Linked DNA regions of Homo sapiens: regions 2, 3, 4, 5 and 6 are each reported to be linked to region 1. Evidence: microRNA targets listed by miRTarBase, many of them from high-throughput screens and not tested one by one. Region 1 holds a microRNA gene; each other region holds the end of a gene's coding sequence.

Region 1 (4,089 bases):
TTTTTTAGCCTAATGTAGTTGAAAGACATTGGATGATTTTGAATAAGTGAGTGATATGATCTGATTTATGTTTTAAATAGATGACTGTGGCTGCTGCTTGAAAGCCATTTTGGAGGATAAAAAAGGAATGGAAGCGGGAGGACTAGTCTGGAAGTTTTCACATTAATCTAGATAGTGGCTTGAAATGGATTGGTTGTGGTGATATGACTGACAGAAGTCAGTGGATTTCAGTTAGTTTTTAAAGTAATATTGACATGGTGGATTGGTTGTGAGAGAAAGAGAAGAATCAGCATAATGATGATGATGATGAGAGCTTAAGCATAGTGAAAATTTAATATTTGCCAAGTGCTATTCTAAATGCTTTATATGAATTAATGCATTTAGTCTTTATGGTAACCCTATAAGGCAGGTACCATTATCACTCTCTGAGGCTTGTAGTATCTTTATACAGGTAGTGAGGAGCAGAAGCAGGATTTGAATCCATACAGTCTGGCATCAAGGTCTATGTTCTTGACCATTATATTACACTGCCTAGAATTTTGGCTTGAATAATTTATTAGGGGGTGATGCCTTTGCCAAGATGTAGAAGACTCCGAGAAAAATATGTAAAATAAAATAAAGAGTTCTATTCTGACCACGTTAAGTAGAAGGTGCTTATTGGTTACACAAATGGAGATGGCAAGTTTGAAGTTGGATTTGAGTGTCTAAATTTTTGGGGAGGAGAATGTGCAGCCATGAGACTCCAGGAAGAGTGTGGGATGTCAGTGGAGAAGAGAGGGGGCCCACAGCTGAGCTTGGTTTCCATACACTTCCACTTGATTTCATTAAGCAGAGAACATACTTCATTTGTTGTTAGAAAATGGGGCAGATCCTTAAATTGGAGCTGGATTTCTTTAAGGCAAAAATCTCTTTCTCCTCACACAGTGTGACTATTTATTTTTATTTTTATTTTTTATTTTTAGACAGGGTCTCTACTCTGTCACCCAGGCTGGAGTGCAGTGGTGCAATTACAACTCACCATGGCCTTGACCTCCCAGGCTCAAGCAGTCCGCCTGCCTTAGCCTCCTAAGTAGCTGGAGCCACAGGCCTGTGCCAACAGTGCCTGGCTAAGTTTTTATTAATAAAAGTTTATGTAGAGTTGGGGATATCCCTATGTTGCCTGGGTTGGTCTAGAACTCCTGTGTTCAAGTGATCCTTCTACCTGAGCCTCCTAAAGTTCTGGAATTACAGGCATGAGTCACCATGCCTGGCCTTAATTTCACTTTCTATTTGTGAGACTCATCTTTAGAAGGTACTGGTAAAACGTTAAAGAAACCAGACTTCCAAAAAATGTATTTATACACATCTTATTTAGATACAGAAAAAAGGACTGAGAAGTTCCCAGGAAGATAATTGAAAGGCAGGTAAGTGGCTCTTACTTGGAGTCACAGAGAAAAGCAAGGATTTTCTTTTTTGAAAAGGATTTCCTTTTTCACATTTAGAAAGTACCAGTTGGGTCTGTGGCTCACTAATTATTTGTTCGTTTGGAAAAATATGCTTTGTAGGCACTTGATCAGGTAATTTTTATTTCTAAAGAGTTTGGAATCCTCTTAAATCTTGTATCCTCTTTTTAAAAGTAGTGTTCAATTTTCTTCCTTAAACTGTGATTAAATATAATTAATTTTCTTGAATGGTTACTTAGTTGGGAATCATATAGGAGTTTTCTTACTATTTGTGTACAACTAGCTGATTTCTTGGGTTCTGGTTAACATGTCTTTTTAAATATACTGATCATTTAATGCCATTTTAAAGTGGGTCACTGTGAACTTGTCAGTGCTGCAGCAAATCCATCAATATGCAAGTAGCATATCACGATATGCAAGCATAACATGCTTTCACTTCCACCATTACTGTCAGGCACCAGTTCATTTGGTCTCCCTTGCTGCTGATCTGTGGGAAACAAAACGTTGCAGTTGAAAGCCATGAGACTATTAGGATGGTGCAAAAGTAATGTGGTTTTTTTCTTTACTTTTAATGGCAAAGACTGCAATTACTTTTGCGCCAACCTAATAACAGAAAAAAAATCATTTTTCGGGGGAAAATAAGCATATGCTCTTTCTAGTTTGACAGGTTTGTTGACTGAGGATGCTCAGCTGAACTTGATTGTTGTTCTATTTGTGAGATACTGGTTTGTTAACCTTTTTCTAAGATGCAGTTTACAATCTGTTGTCTATTCAACACATATTTCTTTTTTTTTAACTTTTAGGTTTGGGGGTACATGCGAAGGTTTGTTACATAGGTAAACTCATGTCATGGGGGCTTGTTGTACAGATTATTTCATCACCCAGGTATTAAACTCAGTACCCAATAGTTACCTTTTCTGCTCCTCTCCTTCCTCCCAACCTCCACCCTCAGGTAGACCCCAGTGTCTGTTGTTCTTTTCTGTGTGTGCAAGAGTTCTCATCATTTAGCTCTCACTAAGTGAGAACATGTGGTATTAGGTTTTCTATTCTTGGGTTAGTTTGCTAGTTAGTAGCCTCAGGCTCCATCCATGTTCCCACAAAAGACATGATCTCATTCTTTTTTATGGCTACATAGTATTCCATAATGTATGTGTACCACACTTTCTTTATCTAGTCTGTCACTGAAGGACATTTAGGTTGATTCCATGTCTTTGCTATTGTAAATGGTGCTGCAATGAACATTGGTGTACATATGTCTTGATGGTAGAATGATTTATATTCCTCTGGGTATATACCCAGTAACGGGATTGCAAGGTTGAATGATAGTTCTGCTTTTAGCTCTTTGAGGAATCAGTATACTGCTTTCCACATTGGTTGAACTAATTTACACTCCCTCCAACAGTGTATAAGTGTTCCCTCCTCTTCGCAACTTCATCAGCATCTGTTATTTTTTGACTTCTTAGTAATAGCCATTCTGACTGGTATGAGATGGTATCTCATTGTGGTTTTGATTTGCATTTCTCTAATGATCAATTGATACTGAACTTTTGTTCATATGCTTCTTGGCCACATGTATGTCCTCTTTAGAGAAGTGTCTGTTCATGTCCTTTGCCCACTTTTTAATGGGGTTGTTTATCTCTTGTATATTTAAATTCCTTATAGATGTTGAATATTAGACCTTTGTCAGATGCATAGTTTGCAAGTATTTTCTTCCATTCTGTAGGTTGTCTGTGTACTCTGTTGATAATTTCTTTTGCTGTGCAGAAGCTGTTAAGTTTAGTTAGATCCCATTTGCCAATTTTTGCTTTTGGTGTCTTTGTCATGAAATTTTTGCCCATTCCTATGTCCAGATGGTATTGCCTAAGTTGTCTTCCAGGGTTTTCATTGCTTTGGATTTTACATTTAAGTCTTTAATCCATTTTGAGTTGATTTTTATATATGGTATAAGGAAAAGTCCAGCTTCAATCTTCTGCATATGGCTAGCCAGTTATCCAGCACCATTTATTGAATAGGGGTTCTTTTCCCCATTGCTTGTTTTTGTCAGCTTTGTTGAAGATCATATGGTTGTAGGTGTGTGGGCTTATTGCTGGGCTCTCTGTTCTGTTCCATTGGTCTATGTGCTTGTTTTTGTACCTGTACCATGCTGTTTTGGTTACTGTATCCTGTGCTGTAGTTTGAAATTGGTAGTGTGATGCCTCAAGCGTTGTTCTTTCTGCTTAGGATTGCCTTGGCTATTCGGACTCTTTTTTAGTTTCATATGAACTTTAAAATAGTTTTTATTTATTTATTTTTTAGTTCTGTGAAGAATGTCATTGATAGTTTGATAGGAATAGGACTGAATTATATAAATTGCTTTGGGCAGTATGACCATTTTAATGATATTGACTTTTCCTGTCCATGAGCATGGGATGTTTTTCCATTTATTTGTGTATCTCTGATTTCTTTGAGCAGTATTTTGTAATTCTTATTGTTGCGATCTTTCACCTCCCTGGTTAGCTGTATTCCTAGGTATTTTATTCTTTTTGTGGCAATTGTGAATGGGATTGCCTTGTTGATTTGGCTCTCAGCTTGGCTTTTGTTGGTGTATAGGAATGCTAGCGATTTCGTTCATTGATTTTGTATCCTGGAACTGCTGAAGGTCTTTATC
Region 2 (4,089 bases), not on the chromosome of region 1:
GTTGAGTACCCACAATGCTCAGCTATTATGGGGGTAAAAAGTTGGACAAGGCAATGTATCCTTTCCCCAAAACTCATAGGTTCTACTTCCATACAGTAAAGTATGTAGGGTAGAAGATTAAATAATGTTATAATGCAGTTACTTTTCCTGAATGAGAAACCTTTTTTAATCACTCCAAAGTAGCCATAACTTCACTTCAAACTCCAGTGAAATTATTTTTTTTTCTCTCTCTCCACAGGATAGTGGCCAAAGCCTCCAAGAACCTCATGTCCACGCAAAGCTTGGGGATTGTATTTGGACCTACCCTTCTGCGAGCTGAAAATGAAACAGGAAACATGGCGATCCACATGGTCTACCAGAACCAGATAGCTGAGCTCATGCTGAGTGAGTACAGTAAGATCTTCGGCTCAGAGGAAGACTGACAGACAAGACAAGCTACTGAATACGTTCACATCTGTCTTGATGCCTAATATTTTTACATTTCTGTAAACATATTTCTGAAATATTTTTTGCCTTTCAAGCGACAGATGCCTCATTTTGTGAAAACTTAATGATGATTTTGTGTTTAAGTTCCAAACATTTGAATAAAATAATTGACAATATTTGCCTCTATGTGTTCTACATTAACCCCTTTGGTGCTATGCCTTCTAGCACTTCTAGGAGCACATCATGCATGCCTCATGCTATTAAATAATATGCAAAGACTAGCACATATTCAAAAAATGGCCTTAATGCTGCTCCAGGGAATTGGGTGTGTGGTTGTGTATGTGGAGATGTGAGTGAGTGTGGTTGGGAGTAGGGGTGCATGTGCACACATGTGCTTTCCCAAGATCCAGGCTGCCTTAAACATGACTCCATACTGTTACTTGGACACGGATAGAACACAAAGAGGTAGGAAGGCAGAAGCTATTAATTTGTAAATTGAACGAAGGAGATCAGGTTCACAACCAAAACATATATATTTCATCTTTCCAGAACATTTTTGTATATATAAATATAGTCCAGCTATTTTCAATGCTATACAGTGAAATTTATAAATATAACATGTTGAATGGCAATTTTTCTCAAGAAAAATGACAGTTCAAAGCATTTGCCATTGAATTTTTTATAAATACAAATGTAGTCCCATAAACACACTATCTTATAAATTAGAAGCAAAATTAGTGCCCTGCAATTTTGATCTTTATATTACACAGGAATTGCATGACTGCTCATTTTTAATGCTAACATCCATTTTGAATCTTCATCAAACTGTATATCTTCCTTTTCCCTGGCTATGTCATTTTATGTAGAATTTTTATTATACTTCTGAGGATGCTTTATTGGTGAATTACATTAAATCCATCTAGAAAGAACTTTTTTAAAGCCTTTTTTTTCATATGCCCTAAGGATTACTTGACTAGACTTAGATTGCTTTATCCATTTGATAGTTTCAGTTGTCATGGATAAACAAAAGGGTAACTGTCTAGAATATATCAAACATTGTTTTATTTTGAAAAGTATGTTCTAGTTGAACACATCTCATACTGGTTTTATGAAAGTATTCTGCTGATAAAAATGTAGACTTACGTTTGACAGCTTTTTAATCAAATTCAAACAGAATAAATAAAACTAATCCAGTGTGATAAAGAGTAAGTATAGTTATCGATTTGTTCATAAAATGAAAAATAAAACATGTAAATAAAACGGGTGAAGCACAGATCCAGAGCAAACACTTAGGGCAATAATGAGCTCCACGGCATAGGCTGTCTGTTTAGATGGGGTATTCAGGAGACGGGGAGAGTCTGCTCAAGAGATAGCCAGATGTGCAGGCAGCTCCAACATCCATGGAGCTGCCTGAGGAAGCAGAGGACTCCCTTGTCCCTTTTGAATGTCTTCATTTTAGCAATGGCGCCAGTAAGTGGGCTTGTAGCCAAGAACAGAGAAGCCACCACAATAAGTGCTGAAGTGCAGTTTCATCCAGTGGGATGTATACACATACAAAAAGCTGAAAAAAAGTCGCATGAAGCAGAACTCCATGATCTGAAGTCACCAGTAACAGTGGGCTGGCAGACTTGCTAGCTTTAAGTGATTCTTATAAGTAAAATTGTAATTATGCCTTTCAGAAAAACATGGAGACATGAAACAAGAGTTTCTGGCATTCTATTTCAAGTCGTTCTCATTTCCATGCCATTCCGTATTCTCAATTAGGTCTTTCCCAAGACTTTGATTACTTCCCTTTTTGAAGCGTTGGGGGAGAGTAGATTTAGTGGTTCTAGCATTAAAATCTTATCCCTTCACACGTATCCATCTTTAAAGTTATTCTGGAAGCATCAGCCAGAGAGAACCAGCACTGAAAGCCAAAGAGAAGTGGCACTACCTGCTTTGGGCAGGGACTCACAGCCCCTTGTCTCTGTTGCTTTCCAGATTTATAATCTTCAAAAGCACCAGCTTCTTGATTTCCAATCTGATGGGATTTAGCCTGATTCAAACCCCAGCTGTGTCCTGTCCCTGCCTGCTAAGGGCATTTAATCAGAGAATGTGTTTCCTCTCTGGGAAAAGGCCATTCCAACGTGCTGAGCCAAAGTGCCCATCACAGGATCTGACCTAACACACTAAAGGCATAAAAAGGGTTACACCAAAAAGTTATTATTAGATTCCGTAACATCTCAAATACAGTGATGACGGCCATATCAAGTCTTCCATGTTTAGAAGCTGAGATTATAAGTATACTAGGTTGACTAAAAGGTTAGATTTCATATAACTGGTCAATATTCTCCAGCAAGAAGTCATGAAACACCAGTGAGCATTTCCTTATCTCCTAGTTTGAACCAGGCAAAATTCTAGGCACTGGTGACACAAATATTAAATAAGACAAATATTTCTACCCTCTGTAGTTTCAGCCCAGTGAGGGAGACTATCCCTAACAATTAATTACAGTTCAATACAAGATCAGGTGCCTTAGCCATCTTGGTAAGCGTGTAGACCCAGGATTCGGCACCTATACTTAAAGATGCTCAAAATGTATTGTTGAATGAATGGGCAAACAGAACAGAAGCTATTCCAGACATATTAACAATGCTCAGTGGCTGACAAATACCAAAAGACTCAGTTACAGGCAGTAACTGTCCTCTGACTCTGTTACAGAGTTAGATGTGGCTTCATTGGGAAGGTAACCTTTTCTATCTAATCTTGACCAATGAACAAGATTTACCAAAGAAAAATGCAGAAAACACACCAGGAAACAGGAATGGCACGAACAGAGTCATGAAAGACCTGACATTCTCCAAAGAAAAGTGAGAAGTTCAGTGAATAAAGGGTGAAGTGCATGCCTAGCAATTTTGGAATATAAAGCTAGAGAAAGATGTTGGGATCAGATATCAGCCATGATAACATATTCAGATTTTATCCTGTAGGCAAAAGGGATCCCATAGAGGCTGTAAAGCCAGAAAGCTATAGAGAAACTTTGTTTCTTAGAGAATCTCTAAATTCACCAATGGGCAGGAAAAAAATTAATTTGAGGAGACCAGCATTTTCTCATGTATGTGTTTGTGTGTGAAATAAAATTATAATCTTATATTCTTAGGGTCAGTTCTAGTTATGATGATGAAACATTTTAAGAAATTGTAACTTAGTCTGTAGAATGGAAACACAAGTCCCTAGAAAATCAAGCTAGTTATTATGTCCCATTTCAGCACGCCTTTACCTACCCAGGATATCAGAGGTTTCCCCTCTTTCTTATTGACACAGAAAGCTGCTTGGAGATGGTATATATTTCATCTTATATGTTGACAGTCTGACTTTCTTAGCATGTGCCATATGACAGGATCACCATGCCACAACTAGTAATTGAAAGCCATATGATGGTTCTCCCTATCCAATTAGAAAACAAACGATCCAATTAAGAAAAATTTTAAAAGCTGTTAAAAGGAAGCAATCACTTGCCAATAGTGCTGTCCTTACAGTTTAACACAGCTAGAAATTGACCTGTACTTCTCTTTTCCACATTTATTTTTGTGAATTATAAGTTAATCACCCTGTCAATTCCTAATTAAAAGGCCCTGCAAAGATTTTCATCCAAAAAGGACTGTTGCTAAGGGTTCTGGGTCA
Region 3 (4,089 bases), not on the chromosome of region 1:
GGCCTCCCAAAGTGCTGGGATTACAGGCGTGAGCCACTGCACCTGGCCCCCCGGGTTTTTTTTTTTGTAAGCAAATTTACTTTATTTCCTCCTGCCTCGATTCTTGGTAATTTTTTGGGTCAAATTTATTAATCAAACATTGTCCTGATTTAAAATCATGCAGTGAAGCTTAGGAGCAACCAGTGTCTTCCACGAGTTTAAGGAAGGTTTTTCTTTCTTCTTGGCGTCTTGACAACAGCTTGAGGGAGGGTGTGGGAAGCGCACAGGCCCCATACCCATACCCGACAGAGGGCCGAGCCCAGCCCCGACAGCTTCCCTTCCTTGCTGGGACACAGCTCCTTTCAGCAGTTCAGGGGCCAAGCCTGCTGCCCCAAGGGTGTGGATTCCAGCTCTGCCTGCACAGCTCCTGCTGGTGCCAAAGCCGTGTCACCCCTGGTTGGCCCCGTGACCAGGGCTCGAGGGATTGTGCTGTGGTGTCTGAGTGTTTTGTTTTGGTTTTCTTCAGCAAAGTGAAGGTGCTTTTTAAGTTCACCAAGGTGGACAGTCGACCCAAAGAGGACACACAGAAGCTGCTGAGCATCCTGGGTGCGTCCGAGGAGGACAATGTCAAGCTGCTGAAGTTCTGGATGACTGGCCTGAGCAAGACCTACAAGTCACACCTCATGTCCACGGTCCGCAGCCCCACAGCCTCGGAGTCTCGGAACTGACCCGTCACACACACCTGCCTAAAGACAGGGATGGCTGTCCACAGGATCCTCCAGCCCCGTGAGAGGGACTGTCCCTTGAGTTTCTCAACTGCTGGAAGGAGCTGTGTCCCAGCAAGGAAGGGAAACCATCAGGGCTGGGCTCGGCCCTGTCAGGTTTGGGGCCTGTGTGCTTCCCAGACTCTCCCTCCAGCCGTTGGAATCGCTGAAGATGGCAATGAAAGGCGGAGGGATGATGGGCTCTCTCTGTGTTCAAACTCCTTGGAGAGACGACTAGGAGGACAGCTTGCCTCCCAGGCCCCTTGTGGACTTAGACTCAAAACCCGCAGGAGAAACAGGTCCGACTCAGTATGCAGTCGCAATAACATGTCTGCTCCCGAGGTTAACATTCAAGCGTTTCTACTTTGAAATTCAGCAAGAGTTTCTGGGCCTTATGTTTGAGGGTACCTTTTGCTGCAGTTGTGAATATTCAGTACATTGCCAGCTCTTGGTCACTGAGTGATTGAGTTAGGGCTCCGCAAGAGACTTTGGGGAGTGAAGTGGATCTCTTCCTCATCTTTTGGTCCTCTGAAATGTGTGTTCTGAAGCCATGGGGCTCGTCTTCTGGGGTGTTCCCCTGCAGGTGCTGGTGAAGGTAACCTGGGGCTTAATGATGGAGTCCCTGATCATTTTTGCACAAGACAGGTTGCTGAGGGGTCGGCAAGCATCTGACTTGCCCAATCCCCTGGATATGGTGAGCCCCGCCATGCTTTTATTCTGTATCGCTTTTGTCTTTATTGCTGCTTTCAACATTTACGTTTGGTTACAGTTAACTATTTTCGGAGTGTGGTGATTGAAGACAATTTCATCATCCCACTGTACTTTTTTTTTTGAGAGGGAGTTTCACTCTTGTTGCCCAGGCTGGAGTGCAATGGCACGATCTTGGCTCACTGCAACCTCTGCCTCCTGGGTTCAAGCAATTCTCCTGCCTCAGCCTCCAGAGTAGCTGGAACTACAGGTGCCCGCCACTATGCCCAGCTAATTTTTGTATTTTTTAGTAGAGACGGGGTTTCACCGTGTTGGCCGGGCTGGTCTCAAACTCCTGACCTCAGGTGATCCACCCACCTCAGCCTCCCAAAGTGCTGGGATTACAAGCGTGAGCCACTGTGCCTGGCCCTTTTTTTTTTTTTTTTTTTTTTTTTTAAAGAGATGGCATCTTGCTATGTCGTCCAGGCTGGTCTTGAACTCCTGAGTTCAAGCAGTCCTCCTGCTTCAACATACAGCTACAGGTACCCCCCACTATACATTTTTAATAAGGATTCATGGCTCAGAGGGATTTTCTGATGGTTTTGCTGATTTGTTTCTAGTTTTTTTGTGTTTATATTTAACATGAAGACCAAGTTTATATAACTAGGTATCTGTATAATGCAACAACATTGGAACACAATAAAGATGTATTTTTGTAAATTGTTACTACATGGTTTTATTGGTTTGATGCCTACTATTTATTTGCGCTCAGGCACAGGAAATACTATGGTTAAAAAATACCAGTGAGTCAGCCGGGCGCAGTGGCTCATGCCTGTAATCTCAGCACTTTGGGAGGCTGAGGCAGGCGGATCACGAGGTCAGGAGATCGACACCATCCTGGCTAATACGGTGAAACCCTGTCTGTACTAAAAATATAAAAAATTAGCCAGGCATGGTGACAGATGCCTGTAGTCCCAGCTACTCAGGAAGCTGAGGCAGGAGAATCACTTGAACCCGGGAGGCAGAGGTTGCAGTGAGCCAAGATCACACCACTGCACTCCAGCCTGGGCAACAGAGTGAGACTCCATCTCAAAAAACAAAACAAAATACCAGTGAGTGGCCAATTCGCACAGTTAAGCTGCTATAATGATCGTAGACAATCTTCTCCAAGTTAGTCGTTGGAGTTGGTGTTGGAGAGAAGCAAACACTCATTTATCCCAAGGACATCTGTTGAGTACCTATGCCCATGTGCTTTTCATTTTGTTCAGCATTAGAAATGGCTCATCCCTTAATAATGATGATATTTAAAAGACATGTCCATCTGAGAGGAAGATGGCTGGAATCACCCTGGGTGACCGTGGCAATCCCTAAAACAGCAGGTTCACGGTTTAGTCATCTACCTCGAGTGGGAGGGGACCCCCTGGCCAATGTGGGTCAAGGGAGAGATGACCACCCACTGTCCTCCCCGGCTTCGGGTACAGATTCCTGTCTTTCTCTCGTGCATGGCATTCCTGGGAACGTGGTTCTATGCTCAGTTTTTGCCAGTTGTCTGCCAGTCTAGTGGCTGAATCCACTTGGCAAGTAGGAGCCCAGTGTAAGTTAGCTCTGCATTCACTTCAGGGGCATGTGTGACCTGGATTTCCCATGTCTAACAGAGCTTGCTGGCGAGGGGGCAGGCAAGGCCCTATGCCGACTGGTGGTTTTGTTTTTGTTTTTGTTTTTTGAGACAGAGTCTTGCTCCGTTGCCAGGCTGTAGTGCAGTGGTGTGATCTCGGCTCACTGCAAGCTCCGACTCCCTGGTTCAAGCAATTCAGCCTCAGCCTCCCGAGTAACTGGGATTACAGGTACATGCCACCACACCCGGCTAATTTTTGTATTTTTAGTAGAGATGGGGTTTCATCATGTTGGCCAGACTGGTCTCGAACTCCTGACCTCGTGATCCGCCCGCCTCGGCCTCCTAAAGTGCTGGAATTAGAGGGGTGAGCCACCGCACCCAGCTGCCAACTGGTGTTTCTAGGCAGCTGTGGGCTTTTTCTCCCCACAGGCATGCAGTTCTTGAAGATTTTTCCTATTGGTCATGAGTGCAGAAGAGCAGGAGGCTGAGCTGAACCTATGCCAGCCCAAGACCAGGCCAGACTCTGCTGTCCTTGTGAGGGAATAGGGGTTCCTGATTTTGTAGCTTTTCACAAAATGGAAGAGACAGAAAACAAGTTCCAGATCTTGAACCTTCCCCATGTGTTTGAAGGCAGTCAAGGGTTTCCTGATTTTACATTCAAGATACTTACACTCAGGGCCGGGCATGGTGGCTCACGCCTGTAATCCCAGCACTTTGGGAGGCCGAGGCAGGAGGATCACCTGAGCCCAGGAGTTTGATACCAGCCTGGCCAACATGGTGAAACCCCGTCTCTACTAAAAATACAAAAAAAAAAATTAGCCAGGCTGGTGGTGTACGCCTGTAGTCCCAGCTACTCAGGAGGCTGAGGCAGGAGAATCACTTGAGCTCTTATATATTGTGGAAATTAACCCCTTATCTGATAATATAGTTTGTATAAGCTTTTAAAAAATAAATTGTATATATTTAAGGTATACGACATGATGTTAATGACATACACACACATATTAAAATGGTTATTATAGCCAGGCACTGTGGCTCACACCT
Region 4 (4,089 bases), not on the chromosome of region 1:
CTAAGTGTCTGCTTTAATACATCTGCCTGGATCAGCTTAATCCAGAATGGTTCATGGGCTGCTTAGAACTTTTCTTTACAAAACCATAAGATTTGGATTTCAGATTGTATAGGTGCCTGGGACCAATGGATCATCTGTTCAAAGCTCTGATTATCTCCATTATGCTCTATCAGTTTCTTTATAGAATATGATTACTACTTAGTGATAAAGCTTCCTTTGCTAAGTTTCAGCCTAGGAACCATGATCCAAACCCTACTTCTAAAACATATAAACATGCTTTACAAGTATCCTATATATGGAAAAGTCCTTGGAATTATTTGTGTAATTAACCTGGTATTACATGTGTTATTTCCTGATCTACTATTGCAAATTGTCACCAATTGCAATATAAACATTCTTTGGCGTGTATGTTCAGAAATCTTAAAGTACTTCCCAAGGGATATTCAGGGGTTATTTTCAATGAAAAAAATACAATGAGTATTGATTTTTTTTCCTTTTATTATATTAGAAAAGTTGCCAATAATTCACTGATTAACAAGCACATGGGTTTTTCCTTTTAGGTACGAATTTGGTCAGGCTCTCTTCACTGGCTGGGCTGCTGCTTCTCTCTGCCTTCTGGGAGGTGCCCTACTTTGCTGTTCCTGTCCCCGAAAAACAACCTCTTACCCAACACCAAGGCCCTATCCAAAACCTGCACCTTCCAGCGGGAAAGACTACGTGTGACACAGAGGCAAAAGGAGAAAATCATGTTGAAACAAACCGAAAATGGACATTGAGATACTATCATTAACATTAGGACCTTAGAATTTTGGGTATTGTAATCTGAAGTATGGTATTACAAAACAAACAAACAAACAAAAAACCCATGTGTTAAAATACTCAGTGCTAAACATGGCTTAATCTTATTTTATCTTCTTTCCTCAATATAGGAGGGAAGATTTTTCCATTTGTATTACTGCTTCCCATTGAGTAATCATACTCAACTGGGGGAAGGGGTGCTCCTTAAATATATATAGATATGTATATATACATGTTTTTCTATTAAAAATAGACAGTAAAATACTATTCTCATTATGTTGATACTAGCATACTTAAAATATCTCTAAAATAGGTAAATGTATTTAATTCCATATTGATGAAGATGTTTATTGGTATATTTTCTTTTTCGTCTATATATACATATGTAACAGTCAAATATCATTTACTCTTCTTCATTAGCTTTGGGTGCCTTTGCCACAAGACCTAGCCTAATTTACCAAGGATGAATTCTTTCAATTCTTCATGCGTGCCCTTTTCATATACTTATTTTATTTTTTACCATAATCTTATAGCACTTGCATCGTTATTAAGCCCTTATTTGTTTTGTGTTTCATTGGTCTCTATCTCCTGAATCTAACACATTTCATAGCCTACATTTTAGTTTCTAAAGCCAAGAAGAATTTATTACAAATCAGAACTTTGGAGGCAAATCTTTCTGCATGACCAAAGTGATAAATTCCTGTTGACCTTCCCACACAATCCCTGTACTCTGACCCATAGCACTCTTGTTTGCTTTGAAAATATTTGTCCAATTGAGTAGCTGCATGCTGTTCCCCCAGGTGTTGTAACACAACTTTATTGATTGAATTTTTAAGCTACTTATTCATAGTTTTATATCCCCCTAAACTACCTTTTTGTTCCCCATTCCTTAATTGTATTGTTTTCCCAAGTGTAATTATCATGCGTTTTATATCTTCCTAATAAGGTGTGGTCTGTTTGTCTGAACAAAGTGCTAGACTTTCTGGAGTGATAATCTGGTGACAAATATTCTCTCTGTAGCTGTAAGCAAGTCACTTAATCTTTCTACCTCTTTTTTCTATCTGCCAAATTGAGATAATGATACTTAACCAGTTAGAAGAGGTAGTGTGAATATTAATTAGTTTATATTACTCTCATTCTTTGAACATGAACTATGCCTATGTAGTGTCTTTATTTGCTCAGCTGGCTGAGACACTGAAGAAGTCACTGAACAAAACCTACACACGTACCTTCATGTGATTCACTGCCTTCCTCTCTCTACCAGTCTATTTCCACTGAACAAAACCTACACACATACCTTCATGTGGTTCAGTGCCTTCCTCTCTCTACCAGTCTATTTCCACTGAACAAAACCTACGCACATACCTTCATGTGGCTCAGTGCCTTCCTCTCTCTACCAGTCTATTTCCATTCTTTCAGCTGTGTCTGACATGTTTGTGCTCTGTTCCATTTTAACAACTGCTCTTACTTTTCCAGTCTGTACAGAATGCTATTTCACTTGAGCAAGATGATGTAATGGAAAGGGTGTTGGCATTGGTGTCTGGAGACCTGGATTTGAGTCTTGGTGCTATCAATCACCGTCTGTGTTTGAGCAAGGCATTTGGCTGCTGTAAGCTTATTGCTTCATCTGTAAGCGGTGGTTTGTAATTCCTGATCTTCCCACCTCACAGTGATGTTGTGGGGATCCAGTGAGATAGAATACATGTAAGTGTGGTTTTGTAATTTAAAAAGTGCTATACTAAGGGAAAGAATTGAGGAATTAACTGCATACGTTTTGGTGTTGCTTTTCAAATGTTTGAAAACAAAAAAAATGTTAAGAAATGGGTTTCTTGCCTTAACCAGTCTCTCAAGTGATGAGACAGTGAAGTAAAATTGAGTGCACTAAACAAATAAGATTCTGAGGAAGTCTTATCTTCTGCAGTGAGTATGGCCCGATGCTTTCTGTGGCTAAACAGATGTAATGGGAAGAAATAAAAGCCTACGTGTTGGTAAATCCAACAGCAAGGGAGATTTTTGAATCATAATAACTCATAAGGTGCTATCTGTTCAGTGATGCCCTCAGAGCTCTTGCTGTTAGCTGGCAGCTGACGCTGCTAGGATAGTTAGTTTGGAAATGGTACTTCATAATAAACTACACAAGGAAAGTCAGCCACTGTGTCTTATGAGGAATTGGACCTAATAAATTTTAGTGTGCCTTCCAAACCTGAGAATATATGCTTTTGGAAGTTAAAATTTAAATGGCTTTTGCCACATACATAGATCTTCATGATGTGTGAGTGTAATTCCATGTGGATATCAGTTACCAAACATTACAAAAAAATTTTATGGCCCAAAATGACCAACGAAATTGTTACAATAGAATTTATCCAATTTTGATCTTTTTATATTCTTCTACCACACCTGGAAACAGACCAATAGACATTTTGGGGTTTTATAATAGGAATTTGTATAAAGCATTACTCTTTTTCAATAAATTGTTTTTTAATTTAAAAAAAGGATTATTGGCTTGTTTTCTAATCATTTATTGCAAGATTGCCATTCTTGGTAGAGGAGGTGGCTTGGGACAGGATCTGACTCACCATGATCCTGGGAAAGAACTATGATGCCTCTGGCCCATCTATCAAATTTGAGTGGCTCCACCCACTAGAATGCCCTATTTCTCTCAAATTGAGTTCCTCATCAAGGGTGGTAATAGAAGAGGATGCCAGGAGATGTTACTTAATACTTTTTCTCATCTATAAAAAGGGGACATACAATAATAAATGATAAGATATGAAGATATTTTGTGAACTATAAAGCACTGTGCAAACTTAAGTGGCTTTGTTCCTCACAAAGGTGGAAGAGTGAAAGACAGCTGCTGGAAACCCATTATTGTTTCTGTAATGATGATGATCAAAACTACTCCATAAGGATGTGATGGAACTCATTCACTCATTATCTTAAAGTATCAATAACTGACACAACCTTAAGTGTGGCCTGTTCCTGGACAATGTTCATATTGAGACCAGGCTTATAAGTAAAGGCTTGCAGCTCTAATGTGGAGTCTCAGACATTAGCATGATGGGTGAGGTGCAAAGATCATTGCCAGTCAATTTGACTTGAATTCTCCTTAAATTAAGCAGATGCATCAGAATTCTCACTCTGTTTCTACAGAATTTAAATATCTGAAGGTAAGGCCAAGGCCAGCAGAAGTTTGAAAGGCAATAAAGTATCTTGGTGCTCCTGAAAATAACTAAAGGAAAACTTGGATTGTGAATCATACCAAGTAGATATCACCTCTGTGTGAGCTCA
Region 5 (4,089 bases), not on the chromosome of region 1:
GGGGTGTGATCTGTCAGCGGGCTGGGGTGCCTGTGCAGTGATCTGTTGGTGGGCTGGGTGTGATCTGTTGACGGGCTGGGGTGTGATCTGTCAGTGGGCTGGGGTGTGATCTGTGGGCGGGCTGGGGTGCCTGTGCAGTGATCTGTCGGCGGGCCGGGGTGTGATCTGTGGGCGGGCTGGGGTGCCTGTGCAGTGATCTGTCCGCAGGCTGGGGTGTGATCTGTCGGCGGGCTGGGGTGTGATCTGTGGGCAGGCTGGGGTGCCTGTGCGGTGATCTGTCGGGGGGCTGGGGTGTGATCTGTGGGCGGGCTGGGGTGCCTGTGCGGTGATCTGTGGGCGGGCTGGGGTGCCTGTGAAGTCATCTGTCGGTGGGCCGGGGTGTGATCTGTCGGCAGGCTGTGGAGTGATCTGTCGGTGGGCTGGCTGCCTGTGTGGTGATCCGTCGGCGGGCTGGGGTGCCTATGTGGTGATCTGTCAGCAGGCTGGGGTGTGATCTGTCTATGGGCCAGGGTGTGATCTGTTGGTGGGCTGCAGTGTGATCTGTCGGGCTGGGGTGTGATCTGTCCGCGGGCCGGGGTGGGATCTGTTGGTGGGCTGCGGTGGGACCTGTCAGCGGGCTGGGGTGTGATCTGTCAGCGGGCTGGGGTGTGATCTGTGGGTGGGCTGGGGTGCCTGTGCAGTGACAGTCTGCTGTGCACTGGGGGGTTGGAAGGTCGAGGCCACTGGTGACAGAGGGGAAGCTCCTGAGAGGTTTACTTAAAAGTAAATGAGGGATGTTGTTTGGCCTTTGCCCATTTTGACCAACCAGCTTATTGTTTTTTTCTTGCAACAACAAAATACACACATAGCTATAGACACATTTTAATTATAGAAAGGATTGCAGGGAAAATACCTTTATTATTGTGAGTCTAAAATTCTTTAGCCTTTAACTCACTTTTTTCCCGTTGAAATAATTGTTTTTTTAATGTGGTGTTTGAAACACCTATGTTTTTAGAAGTTGAAATACAGCAGAATAGATGCTCTTTTTATACATACGTGTGTGTGTAGGTATGTATCTATACACACGTGTGTACACTGATATACATACACATATATGTAATTTTAAAAATAGGATCGTATTAAACATATGATCTTACATTTTGCATTCTTTATTTAATAGCACATTCTAAGTATTTCCTGAGGCATTACATATTCTTCGAATAATGCCTCAAGTATTCTGTTATATGGATGAAGCATATTATTCATCTACCTATTCCATTCTTTTTTTTTTTTTTTTTTTTTTTTTTTTAAAGACAGACAGAGTCTTGCCCGGTCCCCCAGGCTGGAGTGTAGTGTCGTGATCTCAGCTCACTGCAGCCTCTGCCTCCTGGGTTTGAGTGATCCTCCCAGCTCAGCCTCCTGAATAGCTGGGCGTGCACCACCATGCCCAGCTAATTTTTGTATAGTTGTAGACACTGGGCCTTGCCATGTTGCCCAGGCTGGTCTTGAACTCCTGGGCTCAAGAGATCTGCCGGCCTCAGCCTCTGAAAGTGCTGGGATTACATGTGTGAGCCACCGCGCCTGGCCCCTCTTTTTCACATTTTAAGTTGCTTCCAATTTTCTTCTACTATAAAAAATGTGATAAACATATAGTATATGACTCTGTCCACATCTCTCACATTTTCTTACAGTCGACTTTAGACATAATGACCTTCATGAAGTTTTCATAAACATTATCAATAGCGTAATAAATCCCCCAATACAATGGCTGGTGCACAGCAGGCATTCAAGAATTGTTACCTATAAATAGGAAATCAAGTAGGTGAGAGAACAGACCAATTCTGTCACAGCAGAGGGCTGGGAAAGATATCTGCTCCACCTCTTCAGGGCAGGATGTAACTGGGCAGTCTAGGGTAAGAGGGATGAGAAGAAATGGGGATGCTTTTGCTCCCCAGTGCAGGTGGACCTGCCAATACCTAGAATGAAATGATTCCTTGCTTTGAACCAAACATGCCAATACTACCCTCTCTGACACCCTCTCAGATGTGCCCTCTCCTTGGTCCTTAGGATCTCCTGTAAGCACTCATCTTCATCAGGGGAGGTGGGGATTCCAATGGCATTGAGTACACACTTGATTCAGAGCCTTCATGCAGCTGAAACTGTGATCAGAGAACAAACAACATGAATCACCATGTTCTCAAAGATGATTTATTGGCTATCCTCACTCATGGGAAAAAGAAAAACGTAAATGAAATCAAAACAAAACAAGATGAAAATTGATACAAATGGACCCCTGGGGCTTTCACGTCTGCAGCCTACGTACAGGAGGCCCCATCAAAAGAAATGACGCTTTAATTTCTGCTAAGGTCTACGGTCTAACGTGGTATGATAAGGGGATTTTTTAAACAAAGAAACTAGAATGCTTACTAGCCCATGAGTGACATGTCTTCCAAGCCCACATGGTCACACTTGGGAATTGCTGGGTTCCTTTTTGGTTTTTTTTTTTTTTTTGAGATGGACGTCTCACTCTGTCGTCCAGGCTGGAGTGCAGTGGTGTGATCACAGCTCAGTGCAGTGAACTCCTGGACTCAAGCCACCCTCCCACTTCAGCCTCCCAAGTAGCCGGGACAACAAGCACAAGCCACCACACCTGGCTAATTTTTAAAATATTTTGTAGCGATGGGGGCCTCCCTGTGTTTCCCAGGCTGATCTCGACCTCCGAGGCTCAATCGATACCCCCACCTCGGTCTCCCAAAGTGTTGGGATTACAGGCTTGACGACTGTGCCCGGCCTGGGCTTTTTGGAATGAGTCTTCCTGGTCCCGACAGTTCTCCTGCATGTCCTTGTGGTGGCCAGTCTCTGTTCTTTGATGACGAATTTGCTTTCTGAGTAGAGTCTGGTCACCTGGAGCTGGTTTGGTGGAATAAAGGACAATGGGGTTCTAGGATGTAGCTGGGAGATACAAGCTGTGAGTACTCTAATAATGAGATAAGTTTTCTTATGCAGGCCCCAGTTGGTCCTGAAGTCCTTCCTCAAAGAGGCGATCCTGAAACCTACACCAAGTGACGTGAGCATCAGGAGAATGCGCGTGCAGCAGCCTCCCAGGGTGAGTATGTGATGGGCTGGCATTCGTTTGGAAGCTTAGATACTGGGCTGGTCATTAAAACCTTGGCTTACCTTACCCGTTTGGGGCTCGATGGGTGCTAAAGCAGTTCTGTTTGTACTTTCTCGAAAAATGGAAGGCTGTCAATTTAAATTAAATTTATATTGGTCCAAAAAAGGCCGGGTCTAAAGGATTTCCATTCCTCAGAGGCAGACAGCAAGGGGGACCCTTTCTCCCCTTCCTTCTCTTCAAGTGCTTGCTTCCCAGCCCACTGGACATGCGTGTCCTTTGTGTCGCCTGCTCCCTGGAGGAATAAGGTCCCAAGCACCAGCAGTGCACAGGCCAGTCCTTGGCGGGTGGCCTCAGCACAGTGACCTGCCCGGCAGGAGGTCTCAGCACCTTAATCACAGGACTTCCCTGCGGTGTCTCTCTAGCGGGTCAGACACTGCCCTTGGGTCTGTCCCAAGGAACCCTGTCCTTCCCCCAGATCTGGAGGCCCCGGGGGCAAGGCACGGGGAGCGCCTAGTCCTCCGGGATGGGAGTGTTGCAGTTCCCGTGGTAGATCTTGACGTGGCCCTCACACCTGAAATAGGCCTCGAAGACGTCACTGTAGCCATGGTCCCTCCACCAGGTGCACAGCTGCCGGTTCCAGGTACAGTCCAGCACATGGAAGAGCTTGGGGTGCTCCATGCCGATCATGGTGAAGAAGTCCTGGTCCCCGAGGTGGCCGCGGAAGTGGTACTTGTCGGCCAGCTGCTGCACCTGCGCCGGCTCCAGCAGGCGGCTGTAGAGCGGGGACTGGCGCATGGCCTCCAGGTTCAGCAACATCACCCCGCTGTTGAAGCCCGGCAGCCCCTCGGGGGGCGGGCCCCCAACCCGGGTCTGGGGGTTCTCATGGCGGAACTGCCAGAATGTGTGCCTGTGGAGAGAGAGGACAGAGTTAGTCCGGTGTGCAGGGGAACCAGCCTGCCGGCCTGCTGCCCTGGGTCTTCACAGCCAGCCTGCAT
Region 6 (4,089 bases), not on the chromosome of region 1:
TCCTGGCCCTTCAGCTGAGGGAGGAGCAGAGCCCATGGCTCCCCAGGCTGGGGGGCATTTTTCTCCAGGGGTGTGGGGTGGGCGCTCCCTTCCATCCTTCTGGAAGACAGGAGGGGTCATGAGACTCCTCCACTGTGGAAAATGGTGCTTCCTTCCAGCACAGGGTGCTGTATCGTCCCGGGAAGGTGCCTCTTGTTCAGCATAATGACCTGGGACCCTCGGGGCCAGAAATCCACAGCCCCAGCTTCCCCGTCTCCCAGGGAAGGCATCTGTTGGCTGACCATCTGCTAACCAGTCGCTCCTGTTTCTGCTCTGATACTTCCCAAGGCATCCCGAAGCACCTGTCTTAGCTGCCCCTTCCTGTCCCACAGAGGATTTGGCACTTGGTTTTGACAGGATACTTTACCAGCTTTGATGTTAATTCTCCTTCCCTTGTCTCCTGTAGGGTCCAGCCACAGCAGGCCCGGCGTCCCGGTGGAAGGCAGCCCTGGGCGGAACCCAGGCGTTTAACGGCTCACTAGGCAGCCCCAGATCTGGGGAACAGATGAGCACGTGGGGAGCTGGAGTGAGCTGAGCAGAAGTTTTGTGCCCGCCTGCCCCCATCCCCTCCAGGCCACGTTTTAGATGGCCCTTGTAGTTGCGGGTCCTGGGTGTCCTCAGAACTAGACATCAATGCCTGGATCCTTCAGCCGGCCCTGCCCTCCTTTAGGAGACAGGAGTCACCAGGGCACAGCCCTCCAGGCCCGCCTCAGGAAGGAATGAAAGGAATGCCATCATCTCTAGTTCCCAGGGCCCAGCCTTCCCCTTCTCCCCCGGGGCAGGGACAGTGCGGCATATTCAGATTCAGACCTCTTTGGGCTGAGCCACCTTGTGAGTGCAGTTACTGCCTTTGTGTGGCCGTGACCTCTATTTGTTTGCTTTTAATTTGCCAACCTATCGCTGCTGGCAGCACTTTTTGAGCAAGCCGAGAGCACCCATTTTGGCTGGGGGTTCAGATCGATGGCCTTGTCCATGTTGTCCTTTCTGGCTTCCCTGATGGTGTCATGTTTCAGCGCATGCGCCCCAGCCTTTCCCATGTGCCAAACCAGAAGCTCCACTGCCCGTAGGCTGTCCCTGTAGCCCTGCTCCCTCCCTGGAGGCTGCTCTTCTGATTCTGAGAGCTGGCCTAGTGGTGCTGAGGGCCCCTTTCTGCTTCTCTGCCCACCTGCTGAGTTGCCACTCGCAGTGTTGTCAGTTCCCGTGTTCTGAGAAGAGGTCATGCCTGGGAGGAAGGGATCGTCATGCTGCATCGAATCCTCTCTCCGCCGTGTGGCCCCCAGGAGAGTAGCTGCCTGTTGCACCTGCTCCACACCTCCCCACAGCCTCCCTGCAGGTGCTGTGTGGCCGTGATGTGCAGAGAGCAGTGAGGGAGGGTTCATGAACCAGGTGGATCCTCTTTAAAAAAAAAAAAGTTTTTGTTATATCTCTAGAACATTTCAAGTCTTTTCCTTTTTTTCTGTTCCTAGCTATGGGGTTTTAGAGAAGTGGGAACAGGAAGGCATTTGTCTTTTTCTTCTAGTTTACTACATTTTCCTTCCGTAGTTCTTCAGCTGTGTGGAAACGGGCATCACAAGGACATAGGATCATAGATTGGGTAGGGAGGGAGGAGGATTTCTGGAACTTTTCTCAAAGGAATTTGGACCCTTATAAATGGGACTGAAGGTCAAAACAACAGTGATATCCTTGCTTAGAAATTGTCCTCAAGGAATAAACTCTGAGAGCAAGCCCGGGTTGGAAACAGATGCTTTAAAATCCTCTCTCCAGAACAGTGGTTTTTTGTTTGTTTATTTGAGATGGAGTCTCACTCTGTCACCCAGGCTGGAGTGCAGTGGTGAGATCTTGGCTCACTGCAACCTCCACCTCCCAGGTTCAAGCCATTCTCCTGTCTCAGCCCCCTGAGTAGCTGGGATTACAGGTGCCCACCACCACACCCGGCTAATTTTTGTATTTTTAGTAGAGATGGGGTTTCACCATGTTGGCCAGGCTGATCTTGAACTCCTGACCTCAGGTGATCTGCCTGCCTTGGCCTCCCAAAGTGCTGGGATTATAGGTGTGAGCTAAGATCAGGGATTCTTAACCTTGGCTGCACACCAGAATCACCTGGCAAATTAAAAATACGTGGACCTGCCACCAGAGCTTGTGATTTAATCAGAGTCGGCATCAGAGTTTTCAATTTTTTATTTATTTATTATTATTATTATTATTATTATTATTATTGAGACAAGATCTTGCTCTGTCGCCCAGACTGGAGTGCAGTGGTGTGATCACGGCTTGCTGCAGCCTCGACCTCCCTGGTTCAGGCCATCCTGCCACCTCAGCCTCCTGAGTAGTAGGGACTACAGGTAGGCACCACCACACCCAGCTAATACTTTTAATTTTTTTTTGTAGAGATAGGGTCTCATTATGTTGCCTGGGGTAGTCTCGAACTCCTAGGCTCAAGCGATCCTCCTGCCTCGGCCTCCCAAAGTGTTGAGATTATAGGCGTGAGCCACCGTGCCCAGATTCACAGAAGTTTCATACACCTTTCACCCAGGTTCCCCTAATGTTAACAGCTTACATATAACCTTGGTACATTTATCAAAACTAAAGGTGCAATCATACTAATAGCTAGAGTTTATTTGGATTTTACCATTTTTCCCAATGTCCCTTTTCTGCTGCAGCAGCCAATCCAGGATGCCATACTGCACTTAGAGCTGTTGCTTTCTTTTTTCCTAACTTTATATTTTGAAATAATTTCAGATGATAGGAAGTTGTAAAGGTAAGGGCCCCACGCACCCTTCATCTAGTTTCCCTCCATGGTTACATCTTATATGGTTGTAATGCAGTATTCCAACAAAGACTCTGACACTGGTGCGATGTGGGTGGACAGTCCAAATCATTTGTCACATGTACATCTGTGTAACTACCACTGCAATCAGGATAAAGAAGTCCCATCCCCACAAGGATCTCCCTCCCCACCTTCCCTAACTCCTGGTAACCACTAATCGTTCATCTCTTCTTATTTTGTCATTTCAAGAATGTTGTATAAATGGGAGCATAGTGTGTAAGCATTCGGGATTGTCTTTTTTCACTCGGCGTCATTCTCGGGAGATCATCCAGGCATTGCATGTGTCAACAGTTTGCTCCTTTTTATTGCTGAGTGGTATTCCGTGGTGTATGCATTGGCCCCCTGAAGGACACCTGGGATGTTTCCAGTTTGGGGCTATTCCAAATAAAGCTGCTACGACTATTCATGTACAGGTTTCTGTGTCAGGATTAGTTTTCGAGGAGTGTAAATGCTTGGTCATAGGGTTGTTGCATGTTTCGTTTTTTAAACAATCAAACTTTTTTTTTTTTTTTTTGAGACGGAGTCTCACTCTTTTGCCCAGGCTGGAGTGCAGTGGCGCAGTCTCGGCTCACTGCAAGCTCTGCCTCCCGGGTTCATGCCATTCTCCTGCCTCAGCCTCCCCATAGCTGGGACTACAGGCGCCCGCCACCACGCCCGGCTAGTTTTTTGTATTTTTAGTAGAGACGGGGTTTCACCATGTTAGCCAGGATGGTCTCGATCTCCTGACTTCGTGATCTGCCCGCCTCAGCCTCCCAAAGTTCTGGGATTACAGGCGTGAGCCACCGCACCTGGCCACAAACTGTCAAACTCATGTCCTCACCGGCAACCTAGGATGATCAGTTTCCCTGAATCCTCCACAGCACTTAGTGGTGTCCACATGTTTTTACTTCAGCCGTTCTGACAGGTGTGTCGTGATGCCTCACGGTGGTTTTTCATTTGCATTTCCCAGTGGTGGACACCTGTGTTTCGCTTCAGTGGAATATTCCTGTCTTTCACCCATTTTCTGATTGGATTGTTTCTTCTGTTGAGTTTTGAGAGTTCTTTGAGATTCCTTTATGGGATTTTTGGTTTCCATTGGTCTGTAGCTTATCTTTTTCACCCCTCCCCCTCCCCCCCTTTTTTTTTTCCTGAGACAGAGTCTCACTTTGTCACCCATGGTGGAGTGCAGTGGCACAATCTTGGCTCACTGTATACTTGACTTCTGGACTCAAGCAGTTCTCCCT

The links. Region 1 holds the annotated microRNA hsa-miR-548u (CAAAGACUGCAAUUACUUUUGCG, at 2,018-2,040, shown strand). A microRNA usually pairs through its seed, bases 2 to 8, with sites in the 3' UTR of a target mRNA and lowers its output. Matches are read on the target gene's strand: a 7mer-m8 pairs with bases 2 to 8, a 7mer-A1 pairs with bases 2 to 7 and ends in A, and an 8mer does both.
Region 2: the mRNA of ARHGAP15 is a reported target of hsa-miR-548u. The part of its 3' UTR that is shown has no 7-base or 8-base seed match.
Region 3: the mRNA of FLCN is a reported target of hsa-miR-548u. Seed matches in the 3' UTR shown: 7mer-A1 at 1,474-1,480.
Region 4: the mRNA of CLDN1 is a reported target of hsa-miR-548u. Seed matches in the 3' UTR shown: 7mer-A1 at 1,965-1,971.
Region 5: the mRNA of XXYLT1 is a reported target of hsa-miR-548u. The part of its 3' UTR that is shown has no 7-base or 8-base seed match.
Region 6: the mRNA of CNNM3 is a reported target of hsa-miR-548u. Seed matches in the 3' UTR shown: 7mer-m8 at 1,479-1,485.

The regions. Positions count from the first base shown.
Region 1 is chr6:57,388,163-57,392,251 of GRCh38, forward strand. It overlaps MIR548U (microRNA 548u), which reads left to right and starts at 1,970; the gene lies at 1,970-2,050. The region is part of intron 7 of PRIM2 (DNA primase subunit 2); the gene reads left to right.
Region 2 is chr2:143,767,751-143,771,839 of GRCh38, forward strand. ARHGAP15 (Rho GTPase activating protein 15) reads left to right here. Exons shown (of 14, transcript NM_018460.4): 14 at 239-602. The coding sequence ends at 422. The region is part of intron 2 of ARHGAP15-AS1 (ARHGAP15 antisense RNA 1); the gene reads right to left. Among named protein-coding and RNA genes, the nearest start is that of ARHGAP15-AS1, 6.3 kb to the right of the region's middle.
Region 3 is chr17:17,210,273-17,214,361 of GRCh38, reverse strand. FLCN (folliculin) reads left to right here. Exons shown (of 14, transcript NM_144997.7): 14 at 506-2,150. The coding sequence ends at 707. Among named protein-coding and RNA genes, the nearest start is that of PLD6, 6.0 kb to the right of the region's middle.
Region 4 is chr3:190,304,911-190,308,999 of GRCh38, reverse strand. CLDN1 (claudin 1) reads left to right here. Exons shown (of 4, transcript NM_021101.5): 4 at 561-3,293. The coding sequence ends at 723. It also overlaps a transcript of CLDN16 not described here. Among named protein-coding and RNA genes, the nearest start is that of CLDN1, 15 kb to the left of the region's middle.
Region 5 is chr3:195,066,111-195,070,199 of GRCh38, forward strand. It overlaps XXYLT1 (xyloside xylosyltransferase 1), which reads right to left. Exons shown (of 4, transcript NM_152531.5): 4 at 2,174-4,001. The coding sequence ends at 3,605. Among named protein-coding and RNA genes, the nearest start is that of XXYLT1-AS1, 26 kb to the right of the region's middle. RefSeq lists an enhancer at 2,222-3,421.
Region 6 is chr2:96,832,107-96,836,195 of GRCh38, forward strand. It overlaps CNNM3 (cyclin and CBS domain divalent metal cation transport mediator 3), which reads left to right. Exons shown (of 8, transcript NM_017623.5): 8 at 446-3,276. The coding sequence ends at 510. It overlaps LOC124907859 (a long non-coding RNA gene), which reads right to left and starts at 2,283. Exons shown (of 2, transcript XR_007087143.1): 1 at 1,205-2,283; 2 at 1-533. RefSeq lists enhancers at 190-1,389, 1,052-1,671.